Linked DNA regions of Homo sapiens. The protein of the gene in region 2 purifies or fractionates together with the protein of the main gene of each other region. This does not show direct contact. Each region holds a gene or a part of one and is shown on either strand. Other genes may lie near its edges.

Region 1 (3,650 bases), on a different chromosome or scaffold from region 2:
CTTAATCCTGGTCACGCTTGTGAATGTGCACAGTCAAGCATGTGCCTGCATTCATCCATCCATGGCATTATCATGGAACCAAAAGATGGAAACAGCCTGGGGCCACCATAGGGGGCTTGCTAGGTAAACTCAGGTGCATTCAGAGCCGAAGGTTACATGGGAAGGAATGAGGTTGGTTGCGTGTCCATATGGAACAGTCTGTAAGATGATGCCCAGCAAAAAGGGGTACAGGGTACTGCCATGTGTGTCATGGAGAAGGGAAAATGGAAACATCCACTCCCGGGAGGTTCTGAGAAATGCACAGAAGCAGCTGCCTCATGCCTTTTGAAACACATGAGTGTGTTATCCTTTGAAAAGCTAGGTCTGTGAAGTCACAGAAGAAAGATGCTCACTCTGTGGCTCTCCCTCTTCCCCCGGCAGACATACTTTGAAGACAACCCTAGGGACCTCCAGCTGCTGCGGCATGACCTACCTTTGCACCCCGCAGTGGTGAAGCCCCACCTGGGCCATGTTCCTGACTACCTGGGTGAGTGTGGCCTGACAGGGCAGGAGGCAGCAGGCTGGGGAAGTGGCATTAATTTCTCCACTGCTGGGTCAGCCCCTGTGCTTGGTGCTGGGGATGCTCAGGCAGAATAGAACCTGGAGACCCTGGCAGCACGCGGGCATGTAAACAGGCACACCCCTGTGTTTCTAAACTTGTTTGCTTGGTCCCACGGGTTAGCTGTTGCTGTCTCCATTTTAGAGATGAGGAAATTGAGGTAGTGCAGGGTGGGTGGCAGACCCAGCATTTCAGGCCAGGTCGTCTCCAGAGCTGGGCCAAATGGCCATCCATGGGTCGAAGGGAGTGAACAGGTTTGGGAGAGAGTCACGGGCAGGAGGCAGAGAGAGCCACCTGTGCTGCAAAAGACTCAAGATTAGCAGCTGCTGAAGAGGCATCTGTGGAGTCTCTGGGTAAGAACAGTCAGCAGGGAGACAGACTCTGTAAGGCCTAAACCGACAAGGTAGCAAGAGAAGAGCCAGTGGTGGTGCGAGGGATGCAGGGGTTGGCAGGCATGAGGTCAGGACCCTGGGATTGGTTTCTGTAGTGCAGCCCAGGCTAGAGCTTTATGTGGCCATTAATACTGGGCACCTCTCCTCATCTTTGGCAGGCTCTGGGTAATGACTTCTTTCAGTGTCTCATAGGAGGTGTTTTTGGTAATGAGTATGTGTGACTTTTATGCCTAAAATGGATTGAAGGAGGAGAGTGGTGGAGAGGAGGCTGTGGGCAGCAAGTGCAGGACCCTTCCCAATGCCACAGGGTCTGCTCAGCCTGGACCTGCAGCCACCCAGCGGGTGTGGTGTTGCTGCTATGGAGGTGACAAAGGGTGGAGATGGAATGTTCCAGGGCAGGAAAAGCCTGGGCACTGGGAAAGGAAGGATCCAGAAGAGATGGGAACATGAAAATGCCAGAGAGAGCGGTGGGGGCCGGGTTCCCATGGGACAGTGAGCTGGAGGAGACCCCAGTCCAGGTCCTGGCCTGAGATGTGAGGAGGGGAGTTGGGAGGGTGGGTAGGGAGGGAGAAGGTAAGGCTAGAACTTTGGCCTCAGGAACCCAGTCTGCTCGTATAGCGGAGTCATTTGCCAAGGTGTGGCCAGGAGGTTTAGAAGGGCCAGGAGAAGGTGGAAAGGTGTCAGGATGTGGGATGTTTGACATTTGAAGGGGAGGGCCCAGGTGTGGTTGGCCTGGGGGAGTCCATGGGGTGGGCGAGGTGAAGATAGAGCCAAGATCAGGTGCAGCTGGGATGCGGGGCCCCCTGTATCGGTAGTAATGGGCCACAGGTGAAGAAACTACCTGTTGACTTTTATTTCAGCTGCATTTTCTTTCTTTAAGGATGTCTGTCTTTTTCTTTCTTGTTACATGTTTGTTGTAACAAATCTAAACAATATAGGAGAGTGATTTAAATAGTGGAAGTCTAAGGTGCTCACATTCTCCTGGCCCTGTGCAGATGTGGTAGTGAATAGATGTATGTCATAGGCTGCCAGTTGGGTCAGAATTGGAGAATTTGCTGCAGAATCAGCGGGAGGGCAGGGATGGGAGCAGTAGCGGTGAGCCCACTGCTCAGGCAAGCATCTCTTCCAGTTCCTCCTGCTCTCCGTGGCCTGGTGCGCCCTCACAAGAAGCGGAAGAAGCTGTCTTCCTCTTGTAGGAAGGCCAAGGTACGGCTCCTGGGGACTGCGGACAGCCCCAGGACTCCTCCCAACCTGCTCTTTTGTCATCACCAGAATGTGGAGGCGCCTTGCCCTAGGGAGGGGAAGAGAGGGTGCCCTAGGGAGGGGAAGAGGGGGCACCCTAGAACCGGGCCCCAAAAATCTGGTGTGGGATAGGGGTACTTTTGCAGCCGCCTGCAGGCCCTGCTTTTCTTTCCCCAGCTGCCTTTCCCCATTTCCTTATCTGCAGCACCTTCTGGTCGTGTTGGCCAGTTGCCGGCACGGCTCCCTTTGTGTCTTTCTCAGTTGGGTGGGTGGGTGGGTGGATTGTCTGTCGGCCTGATTCCCCCAACTAACCTGTGACTTTGCCTCCTTAGAGAGCAAAGTCCCAGAACCCACTGCGCAGCTTCAAGCACAAAGGAAAGAAATTCAGACCCACAGCCAAGCCCTCCTGAGGTTGTTGGGCCTCTCTGGAGCTGAGCACATTGTGGAGCACAGGCTTACACCCTTCGTGGACAGGCGAGGCTCTGGTGCTTACTGCACAGCCTGAACAGACAGTTCTGGGGCCGGCAGTGCTGGGCCCTTTAGCTCCTTGGCACTTCCAAGCTGGCATCTTGCCCCTTGACAACAGAATAAAAATTTTAGCTGCCCCAGTTTGTGCCTCCAGCATATGAAAAGGACTATTTGAATCCCCAAAACATCAGGAGTCGGGAAACTTCGGAAGACAGCTGTGCCTGGCTCTGTGGCTGCATGCAGTGCTTCACTTGGCCAGCAGAGGTCAGCTGTGCCGAGCTGCCCCAGCCATGAGAAGAGAAGCCTGCCCTTGCTGGCAGGTGGCTATGGCCGGCCCAGAGCCTTCCTGCCCAGCTCCTGCAGCCCTGCTGCCTGGGATCAGGCTGGGAGATGGGCCTTCCTGACCGCCAGCCTTCCTCTCCCCGAGCACACGCACATGTAGATTCGGGGGGAAGCTGCCTGCTCTTCCTTAGAGGAGCCGGGGCAGCTATCTGCTGGTCCCTTTCTGAACAACTGTTGATGTGTGAGCTGTGTCTGTGTGTTATGTGCATAAGCGGTGGTGTGACATACACACATGTGTACTGTCCCTTATGCCCTGGCCTGAGCTCTCCAGCTGCCTTCTCAGCCTGAAGGCTGGGCTTCTCTGCTGGCTTGGGGTCCTAGATTGCATGTCACCTGCTTACCAGGCGTCACAAGGCCATGCTGGGGGCATGAGGAGGTTGGGGCAGCAGGAGAGTGGGGAGAAACTAGGAGAGTGCCTGAGTATTTTAGAAAGAACCAAGTTTTTTCTCGGCAAAAGCTTATACAGAGACGAAGGAGTCTGTGTCTTTGGTCATGGTAGGACTGAAGCTAGCAGGACCCGAGATTTGGGGCCTCCATGATCCCTGCTCCTCTTCTGTTAACACCCAAGGATTTCCACGAAGCCAGTGTGTATGATGGGGGCAGGACAG
Region 2 (3,500 bases):
TTAGTCCCAAACAATCTGTGTATTTCCTGATTGCAGAGTCAGGAAATACTTAACTTTTGAAGCAATAATGGTTACTCCTGGGAAGTTTTATAATTGGCTGCATAGTGATAACGTGGACTTTAATAAATACAATGAAAATACCGCCAGCTTATTTAGAAAGAGAGAACTTAGAGCTAATACTGAGGACTACACCAGTTTGGCAAAATCATTGCTCTTCGTGACCACCTCCAGTTTCCAGCTGGCTTCCTGATCAAAGGTATCTTTCCTTAGTGCTTTTTCACTCTCCAGATTTTCTCCTGTGTTTGTTCAGGTCTTTGAACATCAGTGTTTGGTAGTTGTAGAATTTGTTTTATTTTGAAATCAGGTAAAATGTAGTTTATAAAATGTTAATGGGTTTTTTGAAGTATGTTAAGTAACTATGATAACCAATTAATGAGAAAGAACAGCATGACATCAAGGAATCTAGAAGCAATATTTTTTTTTTTTTGTCTAGAGTGAGGAATTGCTTTAATGTCTGAGTCTTGGTACTTGATTCTAAATTGTTTTAGTGAGGTCACTGAAGGTGTAACAACAAAATACTAGCTAAAGGTGGCACTGTGCTTTTTCTAAATATAATGAGACCCTTATTTCTGTTGAATTGATTCCTGTGTGTTAATGGAAATGGATCATTTTAACAACTTGCACACTACTTCAGGTTTAATCATAAAGGTGATTTTTCCCTCTCTTGATTGTACATTATCCTGCCTTTATATTGGCATTAATCCAAAAATTAACTCACAGAATGTGGATCTCGATGAGACCTTATCAACCATCTATCAAGTTCCCCCATTCACTTTGCTCTTGAGGAAGTTATCTGGCAGAGGTGCAACAACTATTCCCAGAGGTCTTGAGCAAAATATTGGGGATAGAATATAAACCTGTCAGTCCCTAGTTTGGTTGAGCCTCTTTCAGTATCATTGTTTTGTGTTAATAGATTAAATGCTGCCACTGAGTAGAAATCTTGCCTTAAATTGGTGTGTGTAAATCGTCATTAGGCTCTGTGGGTTGTAGGCAGATTCTGAGCAGCGGAATTATTTGTAGCTACAATATGTAGCTAGGGTGTGTAGCTTGAGGTGCTCTATAACATTTAGAGTCATTCTGGAAACATACCGTCACTTCCTAGTTTGGGTGAATGGTGAGCAGAGTGAGAAGCCACTGCTTTCTATTTTTGGGTGTGACAGATCTCTTGAGTCACCAACGGGAATTTACTAAACTGTCTCAGTCCTGAAGAATTTATATCAGAGTTCTAGGTAGTTTTTCACTCCTATATATATGACTCTGTTTGCTGTCAGCATTCATTCAAGTTCTTCTGAGCCCAGACCATTTTCCTAGTGGCCACAGGGAGGAATTCTAGTAAGCAACAAAATCCCCCCAACTCAGTCTTTCACTTAAGAGCTTATGGTACGATGGTACAGGAGAAAGAGATATTGAAAAGATACAACACATATAAGAAGGATTCAAATTCGTTCAACAATATTTGTAAATGTATGTATAAATATATGTCAGTTAACACTATGCTACAGGAGAATCCTATGATTCCAAAATATTGTATGTATGTACAAGTACTTGATAGAAATTTTATTTCTCTTGCATTGTTTCTGATGAATCCCTTAAGTAAATGCTTCAATACAAGATTTTCATGATTCTCTGATCACTCATTTCCCCGCTATGGATATTTTACTGTGCTTATATGAGCAGTGTGCCCCTTCTGGTGTGGCCTAAGTGAGTAGTCAGGGGCTGTATAATGCTAGTGTTTATACTCTGTGTTTCACATGAGGATAAGCAAAAAAAAAAAAAACAGAGCTGTTGTTAGATTAGTTTTGCAGAGTCTCTGCAACCCATGTCATTCAAGTTGTGGTTAGTCATAACCTGAGAAAAGGTAGTAAAGGTAACTAGAACCAGTTTTGTGTTGTAATATTAGCATCTTAAATTATTAAAGATTAAATTATGTACTCAGTTTAGAATTCAAGATGATAAACTTTGCTTATATAAATTGGATCACTTACAGAATTACATTTAGGTGTTGAGTTTTTACCTGTAGTCACAGGGAAGGATCCTGGGAGACTACAGAAATTCAGCCACAAATCAGTTTTTCATGTAAAAACTCTTGATATGGCGGTAGAGAAATTCAAAAGACTTGACACAATTAAGGTTGAATTGACTTTATGTGCAATCTCAATTGTAGAATGGAACTCTGAGGTTGTATGTAAATCATTTAAATATTTGTAACAAGATAAAATATCTGCAGTAAAATCAGTGCTACAGGCTATATTTCTGATTCCGTACTCTGTAGAGACACTTTTGGAGGCATACTTGGGTTAAAAATTAGATGAAAAGTATTTAGTGGAAATCAGACAAAAAGATTTTGGGTTAAAAATCAGATTAAAAATATTTAGTAATCAGATGAAAAGTAGAGAGAAAGAAGAGATCATTCTCCTAGGGCTTTGCCCACTAGAATCATTTTATTTTTTGCAGGTTTGCACGGTTGAGTGTCAGCTAGCTCACTCTCCATAGCTTTGGCCCTTGCCAGGTAAGGTAAATCACATACTAAGGCAGTAAGAAAATGATGAAGGGTTGAGGTTGCTAGTCACATGTTAGCACAGATACCTGACTTTGTCCCTGAGACATGGCAAGTGTTCAGGGTGAGTCACTGAAGCTATAGCATGTGGATTTTATCCTTTCATAGGAAATACTTGGTCTAGCAAGCGGAAATTCTTGTTATTTGTAAACTATGAATGTTCTAGCAGTATATCCCAAATAATTACAACAGCCCCTCCTTATCCACAGTTTCAGTCACCTGTGGTCATCTGTGGTCCGAAAATATTAAATGGATGTGGCAATAAACTGTTAACATCTCTGAACTCAGAGACCTTGTGGGAGGAATGTGCCTTGTATGTTGGAGAAATAGCAAGGAGGCCATTGTGGCTGGAGCTGAGTAGAAGGGAATTTAGTAGGAGATAAACTCTAGGAACCAATTGCCAATCAGGAAATCTTTGAATCCACCTACGATCTGGAACTGCACCGCCCCCACCATGCACACTCCCCACCCTGCCCCTTTGAGTTCTCCCACCTTTGTGGATCGAACCAATGTACATCTTACATATACTGATTGATGTCTCATGTCTCCCTAACATGTAGAAAACCAAGCTGTAGCCCAACCACCTTGGGCACATGTTCTCAGAACCTCCTGAGGCTGTGTCATGGTCATGCCCTTAACCTTGGCAAAATAAACTTTTAAACTGATTGAGACCTGTCTCAGATACTTTTTGGTTTATAGAATGTACCACATTTTATTTATCTCTTCACTTGCTGATGGACGTTTGGATTGTTCTCAGTTTTAGAGTTGTGAACCAGAAAATCTGAGACAGGTCTCAGTTAATTTAGAAAGTGTATTTTGCCAAGGTTGAGGATGCGCACCTGTGACACAGCCCCAGGAAGTCCTGATGACATGTCCCCAGGGT
Region 3 (4,347 bases), on a different chromosome or scaffold from region 2:
TGTTGTGGCTCACACCTGTAATCCCGCCACTTTGGGAGGCTGAGCTGGGTGGGTCACTTGAGCTGAAAGTTTGAGACCACCTGAGCAGCATGGCAAAACCCCATCTCTACAAAAAACAGAAAAATTAGCTGAGTGTGGTGGTGCGTGCCTATAGTCCCAGCTACTTGGGAGGCTGAGGTGGGTGGATCACTTGAGCCCAGGAGGTGGAGGTTGCAGTGAGCGGAGATGGTGCCACTGCATTCCAGCCTGGGCAACAGAGTAAGACCCCGCCTCAAAAGAAAAAAAAAATTGGGGTTATAGTGTAATCTCAATTGTACAGAAAAAGTCTCAAAGAAATATACTCCGCAATCTTAACAGTGGTTTGAGCTGCGTGATGGGATTTGCAGTGAGCAGGCTATTCTCATTGTATTTTACTGTTTTTTTTCCAAATTTTCTACAATAAACATGGGTTACTTTATAAACAGAAAAAGAATATGTATTTATCAAAAATAGATGTTTATACAGAGATTTTAAAAACACACGCAAATATTAGGGTCACACTACTGAGTATCAAAAAACAAAGTAGGACATTTTATATTATTATATGATCTGAAATGTGTTTAAATAAAAGGCAGGCAGGAGGTCATAACATAAGGTTAATACTGGCTGCCTCTGGGTGATAGGATTACAGGTTCTTTTTCTTTTTAGTCTTCCAAATGTTCTGTTTAAACAATGATTCTTCTACAGTGAGTGACTTGAAAATGTTTAATGTTAAGCAAGCTTTCAAGGCCAAGGAAATTATGTGAAGTATAAGAGAGGGGAGGTGAAATATTTAGAAATTAACTTTGAGTGTTAGAAAAAGGAGAAAAGAGCCAGGACCACTTATGGGTTGGTATGAGCTTGATTAGACAGCCCCTGAGACCTACCAGGGCAGCAGACACTTTCCACTTGGAGCCCTCTTACTGGGAGACTGAAACATTTAGGAGCGGAGATTTGTTTTTGCACTATATCTGCAAAAAGGGTGTGGGTATAAAAATATTAAATATAATGATGGGGGTCAGGGGGAGCTGTTCAACCTACCTAAGAAAAGAAACTTAGCAGTAGTTCAAACAACAGACAGTGTATTTGTAAATTCCTAACAGGCTCCATCAGATCTGGCAGGTAGGCCAGCACTCACACTCCTCAAATGCGAGATCTTTGAGGCCCTCCCTTCCATGAATCCTCTCACCAAACACAGACTGGGTGTTTACCCTGAGGCTTGTGAGTGGGGCTGGAGAAAGTGAGAAGAATAAAAGCAGAAACTCAAAGCCTAAGGAGCAGGGAAGGGGAAAAAGTGCACACCTGGGGTCAGGTGCTGGGGTAGGGGCAGTTCTGGGAGGTGGAGACAGAGTCTTTCCAACCCAGGTCAGGGGAAACTTCCTGGAGGAGGGGCACTGCAGCTGGGCCTTAAGGACTGGGGTTGATTTGAATCTGCAGGAGGAACCAGGAAAGATCTTCCTATGCCAAGCATACAGGCAACAGTAAGGGGTTTCAGACCCAGAGCTGAGTTTGCGGGGAGGAAGCTGGGAAGATGGGGTGGGGAAGGCCAAACAGAAAGGGGTGTGGGTAAGTGGTTGGATCTCATCACGATGGAAACCAGAGCTCCTAGGGGTTTGAGCAGGAGGCTGAAGAACCAAACCTGGCTTTGGGTAGAAGATCTGTAGCTGGGCCCTGTTTCCATGGGGAGGGTGTTGCGACCTGGTTGCAAATCAGTAAAAAAAAAAAAAAATCAAGGGCCGGGCGCAGTGGCTCATGCCTGTAATCCCAGCACTTTGGGAGGCCAAGGCAGGCAGATCACCTGAGGTCAGGAGTTCAAGATCAGCCTGGCCAACGTGGGGAAACCCATCTCTACTAAAAATACAAAAACAAACTGGGCGTGGTGACGTGTGCCTGTAGTCCCAGCTACTTGGGAGGCTGAGGCAGGAGAATCGCTCGAACCTGGGAGGCGGAGGTTGCAGTGAGCCGAGATCACACCACTGCATTCCAGCAGCCTGTGTGACAGGGCGAGACTCCGTCTCAAAAAAAAAAAACAAAAACAAACACAAACAAACAAAAAAAAAAACAAGAAGGATACTCTCTACCTTGTCTCCTTCAGAGTTAATGTATACAAAAATGTTTAAAAAGCCGTAAAGCTGGGCTGGGCACGATGGCTCACGCCTGTAATCCCAGCACTTTGGGAGGCGGAGGTGGGTGGAGCACGAGGTCAGGAGATTGAGACCATCCCAGGTAACACAGTGAAACTCCGTCTCTAATAAAAATACAAAAAAATTAGCCAGGCGTGGTGGCACGCACCTATAGTCCCAGCTACTTGGGAGGCTGAGGCAGGAGAATCATTTGAACCCAGGAGACGGAGGTTGCAGTGAGCCAAGATCGCGCCACTGTACTCCAGCCTGGGTGACAGAGCGAGACTCCGTCTCAAAAAAAAAAAAAAAAAAAAAAGCCATAAAGCCCCATATTGTGGACTCACATCTTTCAAAGTAACCTTTAAGCCAGACTCTGAACTGATTCGAAAAAAATAAAATTTTTTTATTTATCAATATTTTAACCATCTTATTCTCCTTCATTCAAAGCAAACCAAAAAAACTTAACAGTTTCTCTAAGATTTTGATATCTTAGCAGTACTTCCCTAACTGCTAATATCTGTTTTCTTGTAAGTGCCACCTGTGGGCCTAGATCAACTCTGAGACTACACAGAGCCAAGTCCTGGGGGTTGTCATCACTGGTAGGTTTTACCAATGAGGAAATAGCCACTCAGAGAGGTTGAGTTTTGTGGCCAAAGTCAAAGCTAGCAGGTGACACCGTTATAGACTCAAACACGTCCCTACTTTTGCTTTTCCCATTAAACAATGTGGCTTATCAGAGCAGCCTTTCTAACAAGCAGATCATCTAAGACAGGAGGGGCTGCCCATGAAGGCACAAGCTCCCAATGCAAAGGAGTGTGCAAGGCACGGGCGGCACAGGATGGCGATGCCCCAACAGAGACCAGCACTTCCCACAGGAGGCAGAATCAATGACCTGAGGCTGCAGTCTGGGGCACCCTGGAGAAATGCCCTCCATGAGTGACCACACAGAGGATTTTCAGCAGCATTTATTTGTAATTCTCCTTTTACGTGAGCTCTGAGGGTTGCCCCACCACCAGTGGGAAGAAGGCGCTGCCTAGACAAAAAAAGGGCCTGACCCAGGAGGTCACTGCCTCCCTAGAGGGCCCTGGACGAGTGCCTGGCTGCCCCTTAGCTTTGGGAGGGCAGGTTATGAGTCTGCAGCCTAGGGTTTGAATTTCAGCACTGATGTTTTCTTACTACATGACCTAGGACAGGTCTCTTGACCTCTTTGAGCCTTAGTTTCCTGGTCTATAAAATGGAAATAGCACTAACTACTCTATAAAATTATTGTGAGGATTAAATAAGATGACGCATGTAAAGTGTTGGGGCAGCAGGCATATTTCATGACAGTACACATTTATACAGGTCCTTTGTAAACTGTAGCTTACTGTGGCAACTTGCTATTCTTATTATTATAAGTCTCGTGGGTTCCCTTTGATCTTTCTTGGCTCTGCGGAGACCGTTGTTTAGGTAAAGCATAAAATAAAGTTGTAAATCCTTAAAAGCAGGAGAGAACATGCCTTGCAGATTGCTCAAGAGCAGTGACGAGACACTTTTTACCAGAAGTCTCTGACTCAAAGTCAGACATGGGTCAGGAGGTTTTCAACGACATGGGAGCGGGCCGCTGCTTCCTCAGGAAGGGTGGAGGCGGGCGAGGTGGGGCAGCCTGCTCCACGTGGCTAATCCAGGCCTTGCTGACTTGCCCAAGACACCAGAAACATCTTTCTAGGTGGGCTGGGAAGGTTTTGCCAGGCCCTGGGTCTGGGAGGAGAGTGCAGGCTTGCTGCAAGGCGAGGAAAGGTTTCAAGAGGAGAAGCTCACGTCCCTGCTTCCTGAGTCTCAGGCAGCATCCTCCTCAGGAGACTAGAACCCAGGTCATCACAGCAACTCCACCCCTTTCTCCAATGCCCACAGCAGGGGCTGGCCTGGAAGAGGCCCGCCGTGTGTGCTGAAGCAAAGCCGCACAATTAAAGAACCTGCAACAGGTTCCCCACAGCAGAAGAGGTCTGAGGATCCCAGAGCCGTTCTTCCACAATCTGCTTCTTCAAATTTCAGTTAAGACACAGGAATTCTATTATTGCAGAGGTTTCTGCTGGCCTCTAGTCTGATGCTGATCTTTGCAGCAGCATCAACCCAGGCTGCAGTTTTCTGCAAAACCAGGGTTGTCTGGCTCCCTGGCAGATGGGGAGTGGGGGCTGGAGCAGAAGCAAAGAAACCCTTCAAAAGA
Region 4 (4,347 bases), on a different chromosome or scaffold from region 2:
GGAGCCAAGGATGGAGACCAATGTATATATTTTTTAATATTTCATGTATTCTCCCTGCTCAGAATTCTTTCCCTGCTTATTCATTAAGAGCTCAAGTCAGCTTTTAAATGAAGCTTACCAAATATACACACCTACTATGTACCCACAACAATTAAAATAAAATTTTAAAAATAAATGGAGCTTTCTTATTCCTGAAGGTGGTAGTGATGTATCCCTCCCTGAAGTGAGATTACCCTTCATAAATATTACACTTGTCTTTCTTAGCAATTTCTTCTTTGAATTATTGCTATTTCTAAACATGATGTATTTTTCTCAATCTGTCAGCTTCCTGAGGATAATATTCATGTTTAATTTTAATTTTTATCCTTAACAGGCCTTGTCAAGCTGTTTAATAAATAATGATTAATTTTTTTCTGTGTTTCAGGTACTATTCTATGAATTTTTCATATATTATTCAGTCTTCCAATGAACTTTAGAAGTTATTACTGTTATATCTATTTTGTAGAGAAGGACTTAAGGCCCAAGTAACTTGTTCAAGGTCATGTAGCTAGTAAATGGCAGAGGAGGCTTCAAGCCCACTTTCTGGCTCCAAAGTTTATACAATTAACCATAGTAACATACAGTATTTGCTAAATGAGCAGAAACAAAAAGGAAGGAAATTCTGACACGTTTTGCAACATGGATGAACCTTGAGAACATGATGCTAGTGAAAGAAGTCAGTCACAAAAGGATAAATATTGTATGATTTTAATTATATGAGGTCAAATTCACAGAAAGTAGAATGGTGGTTGCCAGGGGCTTGGGAGGAAGGCAGAATGGGGAATTATTGTTTAATGATTACAGAGTTTCAGTTTGGGAAAATGAAAAAAGTTCTAGCGATGGGTGGTGGTGATGGTTGCCCAACAATGTGAATGCTTAATGCCACTGAACAGTGTAATTTAAAATGGTTAAGATGGTAACTTTTGTTATATGTAGTTTACCACAATAAAAAAAAGTAAGAAACAATGCTATGAAACAAACATTGAGCCCTCATTACATATTAGGTGTTGGCTTTGTATCTTACATGAATTATCTCATCTAAGCATCATAGTAATGTTACATAAATACTATTACTCCTACTTTACAGCTGAGGAAAATGAAACTTAGAGACTTATGTAAAGTAACTTACCTTGCGTAACGTCTCCCAGTTATTGTCAGTAGTAAAATTAGGATTGGAGCTCTACTCCTAACCATCACGCTGGAATGTTTTATACACTCAAAAGAAAATCACCCTGAGACAAGTATTTGTTGTTAATTTTAGTACATTTAAATGCTAAGTTTTATTTCAAATTTTAGTTATAAAATTCTGGGTGGGCAAATGTTTGCCTTTTAATAAGATCTGTGACTTTTGAGAGAGTACCTTTTGTATATGTTGAGTTAATTGTTGGGCAAATTATCTGTGAAGTCTGATCAAAATCATGGTAAATCGTCACTTCTGCCTGCTTATCACGAGTTTCCTTTTTGCCTTACACTTTAAAGGCAATGGTTTTTAATTCTTTCAATGTGTAATGAATACTGTTTATAAATGACTTTTGCGTGATGCTAGCACATGGGACTGCTTATGAATTATCACTGTTTTTTTTTTTTCATCAATAGCCCATGCATGATGACTATGACTTAAGACAAGAACAGTTGAACAAAGCTTCTCTTCTCTCGTCAAAGAAGTTTCTGGAAAACTTACTGGAGAAATTTAATTCCCATGTGGTAAGTTATAATTAAATTTGTCTTCATGGTAGATACCATACCATTATTGAAAGATATTCTAGAAGTGCCACGTGGATGATTTTTTTTTTTTTTATTGTAGCCCCCAGCTTTGGTCAGTATTGGTCACAGTTCAGCTTGGTCACTGATAATAAAATATTTTGTCTTAGGACTATATCCATTCACCTGGGAAGGATAGATGTCAAAGCCTTTAGATTTTCACAGGGATACTCCAAATTTTTGTTTTTTCTTTCTTTAAAAATATCATTAGGAAATAAACTGCTCTAAAAAAAATTAAGCCAAATCTTTGTTCCTCAGTCCCTGATAACAATTTTGGAGATGGGCATTCTATAGCATCTTGAAGGAACATAAGCAGATTGCCAGAGTTTTGCAAATATTGTCAAATATTATTTTTTGCAAATATTAACCTTTGTTATACACATTTGAGAAGTCTTGGTTATACTCTTGAAATTTGAATTTTAATTGTTCCTTTTGAGGTATGATGGATAATGGATTCACTATATGAGCAAAAGCAAGTACTAAAGAGTCATCCAACTTTGAACCTCATGTTGAGAAATTAAAGTCAATGTTGATGTCTGACATATAGAATAACAGAAAGGAACACATTATTGTTAAAATTTAACTGAAGGTCCCCATCTCTTAAGTCTTTAAGAGAATCTGTTGCATTGTTTCAGGATCATGGGACTGGTGCCCTAGTTATTAGTTCGCTCTTGGACTTCCTTACCTTTGCCCTCTGTGCTCCATATAGTGAGACAACTGAAGGGCAGCAGTTTGATATGCTCTTGGAGATGGTAGCATCCAATGGAAGAACCCTTTTTAAACTTTTTCAGGTGAGAGCTTGTATTTTTCTTGTCAGATAACAGTGAATTTAAGGGAACCGCTTTTAGGATCACTGTTTCTAAGATAACATTTGCATACTTCTATAGCAGAGGTGTCCAGTCGTTTGGCTTTCCTGGGCCACACTGAAAGAAGAGTTGTCTTGGGCCACACATAAAATACACTAACACTAACAATATCTGATGACCTAAAAGAAAAAAAAATTGCAAAAATGTTTTTAAGAAAGTTTAAGATTTGTGTTGGGCTACACTCAAAGCCATCCTGGGTTAGCTTTGAATAAATATAAGCATCCATGTAGGCTGCGGGTTGGACAAGCTTGATCTATAATATTGACGAATAAATGCACCTAGTACATTATCATATTGGTACATTTTGAGTGTACAGATTTCTTGGTGTTTCATGTAGAGTCCCATTGATGGGTGTTCACTGCTGTTTTGACACTCTGCCCATTTTCTATATCTTGCTTTTTTATTTTATTTTATTTTATTTATTTTTTGAGGTGAAGGTCTTGTTCTGTTGCCCAGACTGGAGTGCGGTGATGCAATCACAGCTCACTGCAGCCTCAGCCTCCCAGGCTCAAGTAATCTTCCCACCTCAGTTGCTGAGTAGCTGGGACCACAGGCACATGCTACCAAACCCGGCTAATTTATTTATTTGTTTTGTAGAGACGGGGTCTCCCTTTGTTGCCCAGGCTGTTCTCATGCCCCTGAGCTTAAGCGATCCTCCTGCCTCAGCCTCCCAAAGTGCTGGGATTACAAACATGACCCACCACACCTGGCCTCCATTTTAGTAGTGAAAAACTCATTTTTCTGTGGTAGGCCCAAAGTTCCCTTTTCTTTACAAATTCCCAAATGATAAAATGAGCTTTAGCAGGGCTCTTCATAAACACTGGAAAACATTTGTTATTTTATACAGTACTATAGTACTTATTAGATACATGTATGTATATATGATGTTTATATTTTTATTATTTTAGTATCATTGATATGTATCATTCAAATAATTATAATTATTCAAATAGATGCCTTCTGTTTCCTACTAATGTAAATTCTTTGTTTATGTGTCTGTATCTCTAAGGCTATATTGTAAAAATACCTAAAATATTTAACCAAACTGACTTTGAGATGTATCCTTTACTAATTTTGTGGCTTATACCTTGTGTAAAAATGTATACCCTTCTTAAGAGTAACAGCTAAATGTGTTGGAATAAAATTCTTTTTTATTTTTTGATACTTTTTCCCCCTCACTTTAAAGCATCCTTCCATGGCAATAATAAAAGGAGCTGGGTTGGTTATGAAGGCAATAATAGAGGTGAGAGAACAATTTTGAAATTTTAACCTTACTTGAATGTTGATAGGCTGTTTTAATTGAAGTTGACAATATTGCCTTTCAGTCTTTTTGGGAAATAAACATTTCTCTGGGTAAGAAAAGTAATTTTAAATCTTTATTATAAATTAGTTTTAAACTTGTTACAGAAATAATCCTCAATAATAAAAGTTTTAATTTCATAGTGAAGTTGTAGAGCAAATAAATCTGTTACTGCATTATTTGTTTATTTTACTTACTTAAAAGTTAGCATTCTATCTGTTGCTCTTTTTTGGAAGGATAATGTTGACAGTGTTGAAGTCTTGAGATACTGAGCTTGTATAGAAATCTATTGATGGAGTTAGTTCATACCAAAATGATACCAAGTAAGAAAGGCAACAAAAAGTTCTTGATAAAGCATATTTGTAATTGAGCTCTAGAGAT
Region 5 (5,147 bases), on a different chromosome or scaffold from region 2:
CTTAAATCCCTGCAGCTCGAATCACTCTTTTAGGTCAAGACATTTTCTCCAGGAAGCCCCTGTTAAGGGACCACTTTGCTTCTTGTGAGCCAGCGCAGGTCAGTATGCAGGCCTGGGAATGGGGTTTCTTTCAGGTGAACGTTTTAGCTCTGGGGTCTTGTTGGATTTAAGTGAAGACTGACATCGACATGGCCTACATCAGTGGTTCTTAAACTTTGTTGCACATAAGAATCACCTGCGGAGTTTTAACAGTCCTCATGCCGTGGCCATATCCCCAAGACCATTAAATCAGAACCTCTGGGGATGGATCGAGATATCAGTATTTTTAAAGTTCCTTCCCGCAAGTTGGTTCCAAAGTGCAAAGAAGCTCCAGAGCCGGTGACTTAGAACATTTAAAAAGGTAACTGTATCAATTTAAGAACAGGCTAGCAGTTTCTGGGGGCGGAGGTAAGGGGAGTGGCTCCGCTAGGGCAATAAAGGGTGGGATTCGGAAACAGCCATGACCTTGTGTGAACTGTGGCAGCCTGCGTCTACAAAAGTCGCTCTGCTGCTATTTTAAGGAAGTGAAAGAGAACTGAAGGGTGTCCTGTTGTAACACAACTCTTGCGGGCCCCAGCCTTCCCCTGCTGGCTGTGCTTTGGTCTGCTGCTGGCCAGGTTCCCGCAGTGACCACACGTCTCATATTTGCCAGGGTGGGTTAGGTTCTGTTCACATGTAAAATTCTCCTGGGCCTACTGGTCATTTCAGACCGCGAGGGTAAATTTGGTTTGAAAAAGTTGTGTCCTGTGGAGTTTGTCGACACTCCAGCCTGTAGAGAACTAAAGGCTAGGGCTGTGGTGACTCCTGCCAGAGCTGGGGACTATGCCGAGTCCCTGGTGTCGCTGCCATCTGAGGCCTACAGGGATTTTAAACAGCTTAACAGCAGCCAGTCCTTGGAGGCCTGGGCAGGGCCACAACATAGCAGTACAACCAAAACGGGTTCAGGCCACACGCTGGAGGTAGGGGCTGGACCAGATCTCCAGCTTCAGTCCTCCCCAGTTCGAGAACCCATTCCTGTGGTCAGACATTGCCAACGCTTTTCTTGGACCTAAGGTCCCAGACCTTGGCGCTGGGCACAGGGAAATGCTTCCTGACCTCGGCTCTTCATAAGACAGAACTTTTGTTTGGTGCCAACCACTAGAGGGACCTCCACCCCAGGTTGCGAGTGCAGCGCGGCGGGACCTGGGATGATTCGGGGGCTTTCCGACCTGCTTAGGGAGGGCGGCTCAGAGACAACCTCAATTTTGCCTGGATTGCACGCGGGCCGAGGAAGTCGGGATGCTCCGAAGGGTTTCTGCTCTGGGAGTGCCTCTAATGTGGGTTTTCTATGCTTTCTCTCTTCGCAATTCTCGACACCGTTTCCTTCTTCCTCGCTTTCATTCCCTGTGACCGGAGAACGGCGCTGAAGGACTGGAGAAGCCCAGGAGACTGGGAGCCGGAGCGCCGGGTACCCACCCGGGCCTCCCCGCAACCGGAGCTGTGCGGAGGAGGAGGCGCGGCGAACGGGGCGGGGCTCCCGGAAGGGGGCGCGGTCCGCCGAGAGAGGCGGGGCTGGGGCCCGGACGCGCGGCCCAGGGGGTGGGGACGAGGCAGGTTCGAAGGGGCGGGGCTGACCAGGCCGGTCCCCCGGGAACAGGAACCCTGGTGGACGGGTCCCAGCAGGCTTCTTCGGTGCCCGAGAGGGAGCGGGTGCCCAAGGGGGTGGTCCCTGTGGCAGGTCCCGGGGTGGGGGCGCGGCGCTCCGGGAAGAGCCTTCCGCAGGTCCCCGCCCCGTCACGTGGGCGCCGGCCCCGGCCGCTGCGGTCGGTCCGCTGGTTGGTCGGGCGCTTGGTCCGGCAGTTGGTCGGTGGGCCAGTGGCCCGTCGCTCGCTTCTGGGCTCTCATGTTTGAAGGTGGGAGGGACACGGGAGCGGCCCGCACACCTGAGCCGCCCGGAGAGGAGCCTCGGCCCCGTACCCAGGTCAGTGGGCTCTCCCCACACCCCGGGCTTGCCGCGCGGTCGGGGTTGGGATCCCCGTCGGGAGCATTACCTAGGGAGTGGAGCGCCCCCAGAGCTACGAACCACGGGGACGTGTGGGTCAGTGTCTCTGTGAGCCCCGGAGCGTGTCCCAGGCTCGAGGACGGGGACCCTTCTCCAACTCCACTGGCCAGAAGCCTGGGAGGAGGGCAGAACTCCTGTGGGTTGGCTGCGAATCTCCACCCAACCCTGCCTGGGATCCGCGGACAGTCCGCACTCCTGCAGGTGCCAGCGTGGCCCTGGAGATGCGCAGGGAGGTGGGGTCCCTGAGTTCTGTGCGGCGCGTCCCAGCCCTGCTCAGCCCGGGGAGCAGCGGCGTGGACTAGGGAGCCTAAGGAGGTTGCGGAAGCTTTAGGTCTGTCAGCCCAGGCAATTCTCTGGTGGACACAGCGTGTGTCTAGATGCAGGGCCTCGGCTAAAGCCAGTTCTGTAGTGTAAGTGCAAAAATACAGCACACTTTTTAAAATCTAAAGCCGCCGCGTCCCAGTAGACTGCAGGATGGGGACGGTCCTATTTAAAAGTGGGCTCCCTCCTCACCTCATCACATCAGATTCCAGACCCGCAGTTTTTCCTCGGATGAAAATAAGATTATGTAACAAGAGAACAGAACTTCCAGCGTTTGGATAGGATTAAGACAGGCATTCTTGCCAGTGTTTAATCTTCTTAAAAAACGAATCTAATTATATTTTTACTTTTAGAGCAGCCAGATATTTGGTATAGATCCGTGTCCCTTTTCTATATTTTGGTCTACTTCCTGTCTTTCTCTTCGTCTCTCTCCTTTCTCAACCCCTCCTTAATTGATTGTAATACAAATCTGAAGTGTTTTCAAATTTGTAGTGTATTATGTGAAGTTAAATGGTCAACTACAGAAAAGTAGTTGGTTTTCGACATAATTCATCTTCAGCATATTCAGTCTTTCATTATTATAGGTGTATGGAAAGCTGTAAGTGTTATCTAATTTAGAAATTATTTCTCTTTGGCTTAAGAGAGGCAACCCATTTGTACTTTGCTTAAATTCATAGCTAAATAAATTTGAAGTGGGAGATGGGGATGATTGATGAGGTTTTCACTGATTGCATTTATCCATGTTTTATTTAACATATTTCAATTATTAGTAATACTATTTTAAGATTTGGTGATGTGACAGTTGTTAGCTTATTGCTACTGGAGAGATAAGCTGCTTACCATGATGCCTTCTTTACTGGGTAGCTAAGGGAGATGCGCTTTGACTTTAAAAGAGTAAGTGGAATGAGATCAATGACATGAAGGCGGTAGGAACAAAGTTATGGGAATTCCTGTCTTTCATCTGAGCAGGGAAATCTGGGATAATTTTAAGAAAGGGTGATGTGATGGACCTCAAAGGATCCCTCCTGGGGTTTTTGAGGCAGAGAAGGGTAGAGTGTGGCCTGGGCTGTGACAACTGTGTGGGCAGGCAGGCATGGACTCACCATGAGAAGTGGCCAGTGGTCCAGCTTGGCTCTTATGTCAAGTGCTAGTCAGGAAAGCTGGTGACAAGGCTGGAAAATAGTCCCAGCTGTCCAGTACAGAAGTCTGGACTTGGTCTGAAGGCACAGCAGGGGACTGACTGATGGTTCTGTGAACTTCTCAAAGTCAAAGACCTTGGTCCTTGACCCTCCCAATTCCTAGCCTGATACAGAGAAAATCCAGTAAATATTTGTGGAGTGCATGGTCTGACAACACTGTAGAGCAGAGCTTCTCAAAGTTGAGAATCCTGTGGGGATCTTGTTCAAATGCAAATTATGATTCCATAGGTCAGGGGTGGGACTTGACATTCTGTGTTTCTAACAGATTCCCAGGAGCTTGCTGATCATTTCCCTATGTGTAGCAAGGATTTAGAGTAGCAGTTTGCAAACCTGGCTATGCCTCATAATCGCCTGGGGAGTTTTGTAAAACGTTCAGATTAAGTAGTCTGGGATGTTTTTACCAAGTTCCCCCAGGTGATTCTGTTGACAAACCCGAAGGCAACTGCTGCAATGGCAAAGTTCTGGGAGTGTGGTGGGAAGCAAACTCCAAGGGAAAAAGACAGTGGGGGCGGCGAGGCCGGATAGGAAACCGGGAGGCTGATCCAGGGTCAAAGGGATGAGGCCTTATTTTGGGCCTGAGAGAGTGATGAGGTGGGGACAGGTAGGGAGACTTCGGAGAGATAGAATCTGTAGGACAGAGGACTAGGGAATGGGACAGTCTCTAGACTGATTAGATGCAATGAGAAGTGAGGAGGGAGAAACAATGCTGGGAAGATTCAGCTTTGGGCCTGAGGAATGGTATGGCCTTTAGACTGTAATGTTTAAGGTAAAGTTTATGAAAGGTTCTTGTATTGGTTCGAACCCCGAGAGCCTGCCAACAGACAACATGAGGCGGTGTGGGGCAACGTGCTGTTTTAACGAGCGCCTGGGTGCAGGTGGGCTGAGGCCTAAAATGGCGTCAGCACCAAGTGAGGACGAGGCAGGGGTTTTATAGTTTCCTGTAAACAAGAAGTGTCTCAGTCTGATGTAACTTCTGCACAGTACCCAGACGGCCCCTCTCTCTGTCTTCAAGGGGTACGTGTCTTCCAGCCAGGGTAGGTGTCTTCTGGCCGGCTGTCTTCCTGCTTCTGCTGTCTTGCTGATGCACACTGCTGGCGCAACTGGCCTTGCACCTTGGGACTGGGCCTGAGAAGGGAGGAGTTACTCATCTCTTCAAGCTTTCAGACCCCGGGGAGAATCTTTCATTCCTGTCTATTTGGTTATAGTAAAAAGGGAAAAGGGGTGACTTTCTCAATAACTACTTCAGGCGTGACTTAGGGGTGGTGTGGGCTCCTTGGAAAAAGAAAAACTTAATTTTTAGGGTATTCTTGAGAGATGTGTTGGTATCCATCGTGTCGTTGTAGCAGGAGCATAGTCTGAATTGTCTGGTGGCTAACTGTAGTTTCAATAAGAGTTTTAGTGGCTTTTATTATTAGTGGGATAACACAGGGGAGAAAAAGTGATGAAGATTACTGTCCCTACCAGGGTTTTAAATCCTCCTAAATTAGAGAACTGTTGTCCGGCTGCTAGAGTGAGAGCTCGAGTGAGGGTGATGAGTTCAGCTTTTT
Region 6 (3,651 bases), on a different chromosome or scaffold from region 2:
CACCTTTGTCATCAGCTTTTCCTCTTTGCCACTGGATCTTCATGGAGACATGGGCAAGCATTAGTGGCTTCAGATTGGAGACCAGCCTGGGACTTCCCTGCAGTGAGAGAGCATCTCCCCCTGGTCCATGCCCCTCCTGTGCAGAAGGGAGCCTGCATCCCTCCCTTCCTTTCTCTTACTGCCATAGGAAATTATTTTAGGGGTTGGAGGTGGGACAAGCAGGCTTGTTTCCACCAATAGTGCCAAAAAGATATTGCCTAATGTGCACCTGTGAGGTGTAACCCCCCGCTTTGGAGACGAGATGGCTCTTGTTCAGTCAAGACCCCAGACTCTGGCCACAAAAATGCCATAATGCCTGTTGGTATTTGGCAAAGCACTGACCCGTGTCCTCCGTTGCTCGCACTGGGGTCTCTGGTGTGAACACCCCCGACAGCAGCCCTCCGCCCACTCTGCCCCCTGGGAGCCCTCGCTGGATCGTCTCGTCTCCTGCAGCAGCACTGGCAGGCGAGGGCTCTCGTTCATATTCTCAGGCCGCAAGTGCAATGCCTGAGGGGATCAGGCTTTTCTACTCCAGGCAAACCTGCCCCATCTTGTCGCTTTTAGGACCTCCCACAACCTGGTTCCCCACACATCCATAGTTCTGCCTCCCCAGCTTCTCCTCCCCAGTTGTAAATAGTATTTATTAGCTTGCCGAGGCTTCCTGCTAGCAACCACACTGAAGAGATCGATGCCTCCTTTCAAGCTAGCCAAGTTTTCTGCGAGCCTTCAGAGCTAGGAGGGCACCCTAGGCTCTGGGATCCCGTGTCTTTCCAGACAATGTTTTGTTTCCTTTCCTTTGTTTTTTCTTTTAACTGGAATAATTACCATTGAAAAAGAAGTTCCTTTGAGCATGTATGTGTCTGCCTCTAGGATGAGCTCAGAGCGAGAGATGACACAATGCCTCACTCAGGCCCCGGGCTCCCTGGCCACAAGCTTTTTCTATCCTGTTTTCATGACAGAGAAGGGGAAGCCCTGTTCTGACAACAGACATTTCAGACAACCTTGCTGGCTTTCCACACCTGCCTGGCCCCCTCCTCCCTCCACACTTCCACTTTGTCCTCCTCGTCCCCTACCTCAACAAAGCAGGGTGGGGTAGGTGACATTTGTGTATCCACATTCTTACCTTTGGTAGTCAGGTTTGGCTACTTTGCAGCTCGCCCAAAGAGATACAACCTAATCCCCAACCTACTTTTAGTTTTTTTGTTTTTTTTTTATGGTTAAAAGTAACTTTTGTAGTTTAAAAAAATCTTTCCTCTTTCATATAAATAAGAAGTGGAAATTGCCTTTTTATTGTGTAATGTAGAAAACCCTCAAGTGTTTTTTCCGAGCTTGGGAAAGATTTTGTGTAGGAAATGTGCATAGAGTTTGTATTTTATTTTTATTAGCAGCTGAAATGCCTTTGGTTTTGGCTTCTCTCTCTCCCTCTCTCTCTCTGTCTCTCCTTCTCTCTCTCCCCCCACCACCCACCCCCACACACGTCATCTGCATTGTTATTGGAGCCTGTACTTAGAGGGATTAAGCCCACACCCTGGCTTCCATTCCATATCAGGTACAGGATTTGATGTTATTAACATTTGTCGTCATACCTCATAAGTCGGTCCCTGCCTTGTCTGTCTAGGCCCATTTGGGGCTCCCTGTGAGTGATTCCCCTCTCTCTGCTATGCTGGAGACGGTTCCAGCCTGGAAAGCGGCCAAGTTCATCTTCTCACTGTGAGTGGAAGCTGGATCGGGCCCCCGTAGTCCTGGCAGCCCTGTTGTCTGGAGGGTTCTTGTTGTCCCTCCCATTAGCCAGGGCGGAGACTGTCTGAGCTGTGCAGGAGGAGGGTTGCTAGTAGGTTCTGCTTCTGCTTCTCTCTGCTCCACTGTCTGCAGCCCAGATCCTGTTGGGCCTGGCTGGTGTCTGGTAACCATGGGCCTCCACTGACCCATCCCTCTCTTTTAAACTGTCAGGTCATTATCAGGCATAGGCAGCCTATAGGGCCCAAAGAAGGCAAAAAGATAAGATTTACTCAAGTAGCATTTGGGCAATGAGGAAGGAAAGGTTTCAAATTTAGGGGCAGAAGTGAGAGAATGAGCCAACCCATGTACCTGCTGCAACTGAACCAGACTGGGTTTTCAAGGCTCCCAGACGTAGAGTAGGAAACGTGCTCTTCTAAATGAGGAGGGAGAAGATAAAGGAAACTTCTAGCCCCTGTCCTTAGTGCTTTGAGGATTTTATTTTCTCCCTTACTACGCTTGCTTGACGTCACTCTCTCTCGACCTCCAAACAGCAGGACTCTTTCTCTGGGAAACCATCCTTCCAAAACGGAATCTATGTAGACAATGGGACGTTAGGCAGAGAGCTCAGATGGCCCTTTTAAGGGGGCTCCAAGAACCAACATCACTGCTCTTTTAGATAAACCTCTGCCCTCCACTCCTTGCTTGAGTGGGTTAAAGGAACTAACAGTTGTCCCTTTAGGAGGACAAAATGGGGTCAAGAGGACACAGAAGAGTTGTATAGCACCAGATTGGTTCCAAATAGTTAATGGATGTGTGCACATTTTCTGTTCAGGGATTAAGACCAGAATATCAGTGGATTTGTTTTCCCCACCAAGTGGCCTCTTAGACTAGTCATTAACTTATGATTAGCTCTAAAGATTTCAAATAGTGGCAGACAGTGTCTTCTGAATGTAAGTTTTGAGAAATACGAGTCTGTCAGAGCGGCCATAAGCCATAAAGAGTCAATCTCTTAATTATATTTTTCATCATGTAAACAAGTTTCCCATTTCCCTTTCTTAGATTGCACCAGTGAAGGAGATGTTTTGCAAAGATTCAGAGAACTAATTTTTCACTGGATAAGACCTGAGTAACCCAGACCCCCCACCGTGGTTCTTTTCACAGCCCTCGACTTTGCACTTAAAAAGGGATATTGTAAATGAAAGGCTGCAGTGCCAGTTTTAAGAAAGAATTTCTGTGAAGTGTGAGGACTCTGGAGTCTAGCTCACATAAAGAGAGTGTTATATAAAAATCCGACAGCTGAACTAGGTTGCTCTTTTTTGGCAGGGAGTGGGGATGAGATTTGACACCAATATGGGCAAAATTAGATAACCTTTTGGTTAATATAAATGATTTTGATTTGGAGGCCTAATTTGTAGATTGTGAAAGCAGCTTTTAGTTTAACTTATTCACAGACCCCTTATAATTACCATGTTTTTTTTTTTCTTCCTAAATCTCTTGGTTCAGCTTGTGAATCTTACGTGCCCGTAAAGTTGGGATGTTGAATTGGCTCTTCTTTGTTCTGGCAGTGAGTCAAGTGTCCAGCATTTTTTCATAAGTGTTTTTTAAAATTGTTCTCCAGCATTTTATGGCTCCTCCCTCCCATGTCCTCAGACCCAGCAAAAGCGTAGAGGCAGAATTAGAGGCCTCTCCAGGCCAGCTCCTCTGCCCACATGTCATACAAGGTGTGAATTTGAGCACAGTCCAGAAATGGAGACATCCCACCCCCAGTTGAATAATGGCCCATTCATGCCAACCTTGCCAACACGGAGAGGGCAGAGATGCACTAGAAGACCTTCATCCTCCCCTTCCTCTGCCCCAAGTCACTACAGTTGGTTCTATTGAAGCCAGTCTTTA
Region 7 (4,310 bases), on a different chromosome or scaffold from region 2:
TCAGTCCCCGGGGAGAGTCAGAGCCCCAGGTGTCGGCCCCCTCGGTGCTGCTGCTCCCATCCAGGCACCTCCGGGGAGGGCAAGGACAGGCCGGGCTGGGCTGAGCATGACTGGGAGAAAGGCCAGGCTGTGAGTGAGCACCTGCCTGCGGCCTGGGGGCCCATTTCCTCCCAAAATCCAGATGAATGAGGCCACTGATAGTGTCCTCGGCCCTCAGGGGCTTCAGAAACACCTGGAGAGCTTCTTATAGCACGCCCGTGGCCCAGCCTGCCCCAGAGCCTTGCTTCGGGAGGGTGACTAAGAATTTGCATTTCTAACCAGTTCCCAGGCAGTGCTGTGAGAACAGCTGCAGGAGGCTGCACAGCAGATCTGAGGTGGGCTTCAGGACGACGCTGCGGCCACAGGAAGAATCGTGCTTTTCTCAGGAGACAGAGCCTGCCGCTTTCATCGGGGGCTCAAAGGGCTCCATGGTCATAAAAGGCAGAAGAACCAAAGTCTGACTGTTTCCAATGTGTCACCAGGCTGGAGTGCAGTGGGGCTATCTCGGCTCACTGCAACCTCCACCTCTCGGGTTCAAGGGATTCTCCTGCCTCAGCCTCCCGAGTAGCTGGGATTACAGGCACCCAGCACCACGCCCAGCTAATTTTTGTATTTTTAGTAGAGTCGGGTTTCACCATGTTGATCAGGCTGGTCTTGAGCTGCTGACCTCAGGTGATCCGCCCACCTCGGCCTCCCAAAGTGCTGGGATTACAGGCGTGAGCCACCTCGCCCAGCCTATTATTTTTTAAAGTAACAGCTTTATTTAGATATAATTCACATACCATAATATCCACCCTTTTAAAATGGACAGTTCAGTGCTTCTCAGTACATTCACAGTGTTGTACAATTGTCCCCACTCTCTAATTCTAGAACATTTTCATCATCTCAAAAATCCTGTACCCATGAGCAGTCTCTCACCTTCCCCTTCCCCCAGCCCTGGCAACCAAGAACCTTTCTGTCTCTATGGATTTGCCTGTCCTGGACATTTCATATAAACAGAGCCATATATAACTAATATGTGGCCTTTTGTGTCTGTGTCTGGCTTCTTTCAGTTAGCATACAGTTTTCAAGATTCATACATGTTGTAGCATGGATCAGTATTTTATTCCTTTTTATTCTTTTTTTTTTTTTTTGAGACGGAGCCTCTCTCTGTTGCCCAGGCTAGAGTGCAGTGGCACGATCTCGGCTCACTGCAACCTCCACCTCCTGGGTCCAAGCGATTCTCCCGCCTCAGCCTCCCGAGTAGCTGGGATTACAAGCGCCCATCGCCATGCCATGCCCGGCTAATTTTTTTGTATTTTTAGTACAGATGGGGTTTCACCATGTTGGCCAAGCTGGTCTCGAACTCCTAACCTCAAGTGATCCACCCACTTTGGTCTCCCACAGTGCTGGGATTACAAGCCTGAGCCACTGTGCCTGGCCTGTTTTTGAGTCAGGGGTCTTGCTCTGTCACCCAGGCTGAAGTGCAGTGGCGCAATTACAGCTCATTGTAGCCTCGACCTCCCAGGCTCAAGTGATCCTCCCACCTCAACCTCCTGAGTAGCTGGGACTACAGGCAGCTGCCACCATGCCCAGCTAATTTTTTTTTTTTAGTAGAGACTGGGTCTTGCTATGTTGCCCTGGCTTTGGGCATACATTCCTTTGTATGTCTAATACCCCACTGATGGTATGCCACATTTTGCTTATCCATTCATCTACTAGTGGACACACGGGTTGTTTTTAATTTGTGGTTATTAATAATGCCACTTAGGAATATTGATGTGCAAGTTTTCGTGTAGACATGTTTTCCTTCTTCTTGGTTCTGTACTTAGGAGTGGAATTGCTGGGTCATATGGCAACTGTGTTTAGCATTGTGAGGAACTGCGAGACTGTTTTCCAAAGTGACTGCACCATTTTAAATCTCCACCAACACTTGTTATTCTGTTTTTGTTGTTGTTGTTATTGTTTTGAGACAAGGTCTTGCTCTGTCGCCCAGGCTGGAGTGCAGTGGCGTGTTCATGGCTTGCTGCAGCCTCAACCTTCCTGGCTCAGGTGATCCTCCCACCTCAGCCTCCCGAGTAGCTGGAACCAGCCACAAACAGCTGCCCACATTGGTGACTTGGGCCACCACACCCTGCTAACTTTTTTTGTATTTTTTTTTTTTTTTTTTTGTAGAGATAGGGTTCTGCCATTTTGCCCAAACCCTCTGTGTTTTTTGTTATGGCCATCCTAGTGGGCGTGCAGTGGTATCTCACTGTGGTTTTGACTTGCATTTCCCTGATGACTAATGATGTCGGGCACCTTTTCATGTGCTTATTGGCCATTTGTAGATCTTCTCTGGAGAAATGTCTGTTCACATCCTTTGCCCTTTTTTTTTTTTTTTTTTGAGACAGAGTCTTGCTCTGTCGCCCAGGCTGGAGTGCAGTGGTGTGATCTCGGCTCACTGCAAGCTCCGCCTCCCAGGTTCACGCCATTCTCCTGCCTCAGCCTCCCAAGCAGCTGGGACTACAGGCGCCCGCCACCACGCCCAGCTAATTTTTTGTATTTTTAATAGAGACGGGGTTTCACCGTGTTAGCCAGGATGGTCTCGATCTCCTGACCTCGTGATCCGCCCACCTCGGCCTCCCAAAGTGCTGGGATTACAGGCGTGAGCCACCGCGCCCGGCCCCTTTGCCCATTTTTTAACTGGGTTTTTTTAAATTGATGAATTATTTTTAAAAAGCAAAACTGATGTCTAAGCCTGTTTGAAGAGTATCAGTGTGGCCCATTGTCTCAAGTTGTCACTGTGGGTCAGATATTTTTAAGTTTACATGCATAAGTTTTAGTCACGTGCCGGGCTGTTGGGTTCAGTGGCCCCAGGAGCTCTGTTCACCCGGCACCCGTGTTATACAAGGTGTGGTCCTCAGTGCGTGTCACCGATGCTATCATTGGGAAGCCCCTGCTCCAGACAGGGAAGGGGTGACCACTGTTGCTTTCATGGAGCAAAACGATGCTTGGGTTATCTTCAAGTGCATTATTCCTCTTGGTCACGCTACTGGGATCAGATGTGGGAAATCCGTGTCCCTCATGCTAAAACGTGTGCTTCTTTTGTTTTACCCAGAAGGTGCTAATCGGAAGAAGAACTTGCCCCCCAAAGTGCCCATAACGCCGATGCCACAGTATTCCATTATGGAGACGCCGGTGCTGAAGAAGGAACTGGATAGGTTGGCGGTCTTCAAAGCTTGTTGCCCACAGTGGTCTTTTCCCTCCCATAAGTAACTGGGTTTCACACACCTGGGGGCGGAAGGGCCCCCCGTGTGGTCTCTGGGTCTGGTGGATGCAGCTGGCCTGGGCTTGGGAAGAAAGGTCTGCAGTCAGCTCCTTAGGGAGCATGTGTGACTGCTGGGTGCCGGGGTGAGCCTCCCAGTTCTCTCTGCGTACCATTCCCCAGGGAGGCAACACACAGGATTCGTGCATGTCACCCCTGGGCAGCAGGTCCCCATATTCCATGTAGATGGAAATGGCCCCCTAGCCAGAGCAGTCTGAGTGAGGAGGTCTGATTTTTTTTTTGAAAGACAGAGTCTTGCTCTGTCGCCCAGGCTGGAGTGCAGTGGCGCAGTCCCGGCTCACTGCAACCTCCACCTCCCGGGTTCAAGCGATTCTCCTGACTCAGCCTCCCGAGTAGCTGGGACTACAGGCACACGCCACCACACCAGGCTAATTGTTGTATTTTTAGTAGAGACGGGGTTTCACCATGTTGGCCAGGCTGGTCTCGAACTCCTGACCACGTGATCCACCCGCCTCGGCTTCCCAAAATGCTGGGATTACAGGCGTGAGCCACTGTGCCCGGCGGAGGCCTGATTTTTTTTAAAAGAACATTTAACTCTCACATCCACATGACACTGCTCTTCCACTCGGGCACCCGGGGAAGCTGCTGCTGCCACCATCCCTCAGAACTGGGAGCAGCATATCTTTTGTTTATTTTTTATTTTTGGAGACAGGATCTCACTCTGTTGCCCAGGCTGGAGTAGAGTGATGTGATCTTGGCTCACTGTAGCCTCAGCCTCCCGGGCTTAAGCGATCCTACCTCATCCTCCCTAGTAGCTGGGACTACAGGTGACACCACCACGCCTGGCTAATTTTTGTATTTTTTGTAGAGGCGGGGTCTTGCTATGTTGCCCAGGCTGGCCTTGAACTCCTGAGCTCAAACTGTCCTCCTGCCTCAGCCTCCCAAAGTGCTGGGATTGTAGGCGTGAGCCATTGTGCCTGGCTGGCAATGTTTCTTTTGGAATATTCAGAGTAAGCTTAGTTGG

What was found.
Region 1: the proteins of TBC1D4 (region 2) and DDX56 purify together in Homo sapiens (co-immunoprecipitation; one large-scale study listed by IntAct). This does not show direct contact.
Region 3: the proteins of TBC1D4 (region 2) and TBC1D2 fractionate together in Homo sapiens (co-fractionation; one large-scale study listed by BioGRID). This does not show direct contact.
Region 4: the proteins of TBC1D4 (region 2) and DNAJC13 purify together in Homo sapiens (affinity purification with mass spectrometry; one large-scale study listed by BioGRID and IntAct). This does not show direct contact.
Region 5: the proteins of TBC1D4 (region 2) and PPFIBP2 purify together in Homo sapiens (co-immunoprecipitation; one large-scale study listed by IntAct). This does not show direct contact.
Region 6: the proteins of TBC1D4 (region 2) and CREB3L2 purify together in Homo sapiens (co-immunoprecipitation; one large-scale study listed by IntAct). This does not show direct contact.
Region 7: the proteins of TBC1D4 (region 2) and SLX4 purify together in Homo sapiens (co-immunoprecipitation; one large-scale study listed by IntAct). This does not show direct contact.

What each region holds. Positions count from the first base shown.
Region 1 is NC_000007.14:44,564,994-44,568,643, reverse strand, and holds the end of DDX56 (probable ATP-dependent RNA helicase DDX56), read left to right. Parts: intron 1-420; coding exon 421-526; intron 527-2,119; coding exon 2,120-2,196; intron 2,197-2,564; coding exon 2,565-2,642; 3' UTR 2,643-2,840; downstream 2,841-3,650. UniProt on the Homo sapiens protein: Nucleolar RNA helicase that plays a role in various biological processes including innate immunity, ribosome biogenesis or nucleolus organization. Plays an essential role in maintaining nucleolar integrity in planarian stem cells.
Region 2 is NC_000013.11:75,363,670-75,367,169, reverse strand, and holds part of TBC1D4 (TBC1 domain family member 4), read left to right. Parts: intron 1-3,500.
Region 3 is NC_000009.12:98,245,294-98,249,640, forward strand, and holds part of TBC1D2 (TBC1 domain family member 2A), read right to left. Parts: intron 1-4,347. UniProt on the Homo sapiens protein: Acts as a GTPase-activating protein for RAB7A. Signal effector acting as a linker between RAC1 and RAB7A, leading to RAB7A inactivation and subsequent inhibition of cadherin degradation and reduced cell-cell adhesion.
Region 4 is NC_000003.12:132,458,615-132,462,961, forward strand, and holds part of DNAJC13 (dnaJ homolog subfamily C member 13), read left to right. Parts: intron 1-1,635; coding exon 1,636-1,743; intron 1,744-2,435; coding exon 2,436-2,591; intron 2,592-3,852; coding exon 3,853-3,909; intron 3,910-4,347.
Region 5 is NC_000011.10:7,512,123-7,517,269, forward strand, and holds the start of PPFIBP2 (liprin-beta-2), read left to right. Parts: upstream 1-1,918; 5' UTR 1,919-1,995; coding exon of another isoform or gene 1,996-2,483; intron 2,484-5,147. Other genes in the region: leucine-rich repeat extensin-like protein 5, read right to left, coding at 1,088-1,918, 1,996-2,483. UniProt on the Homo sapiens protein: May regulate the disassembly of focal adhesions. Did not bind receptor-like tyrosine phosphatases type 2A.
Region 6 is NC_000007.14:137,876,770-137,880,420, reverse strand, and holds part of CREB3L2 (cyclic AMP-responsive element-binding protein 3-like protein 2), read left to right. Parts: 3' UTR 1-3,651. UniProt on the Homo sapiens protein: Transcription factor involved in unfolded protein response (UPR).
Region 7 is NC_000016.10:3,583,680-3,587,989, reverse strand, and holds part of SLX4 (structure-specific endonuclease subunit SLX4), read left to right. Parts: intron 1-321; exon of another isoform or gene 322-1,054; intron 1,055-3,118; coding exon 3,119-3,221; intron 3,222-4,310. UniProt on the Homo sapiens protein: Regulatory subunit that interacts with and increases the activity of different structure-specific endonucleases.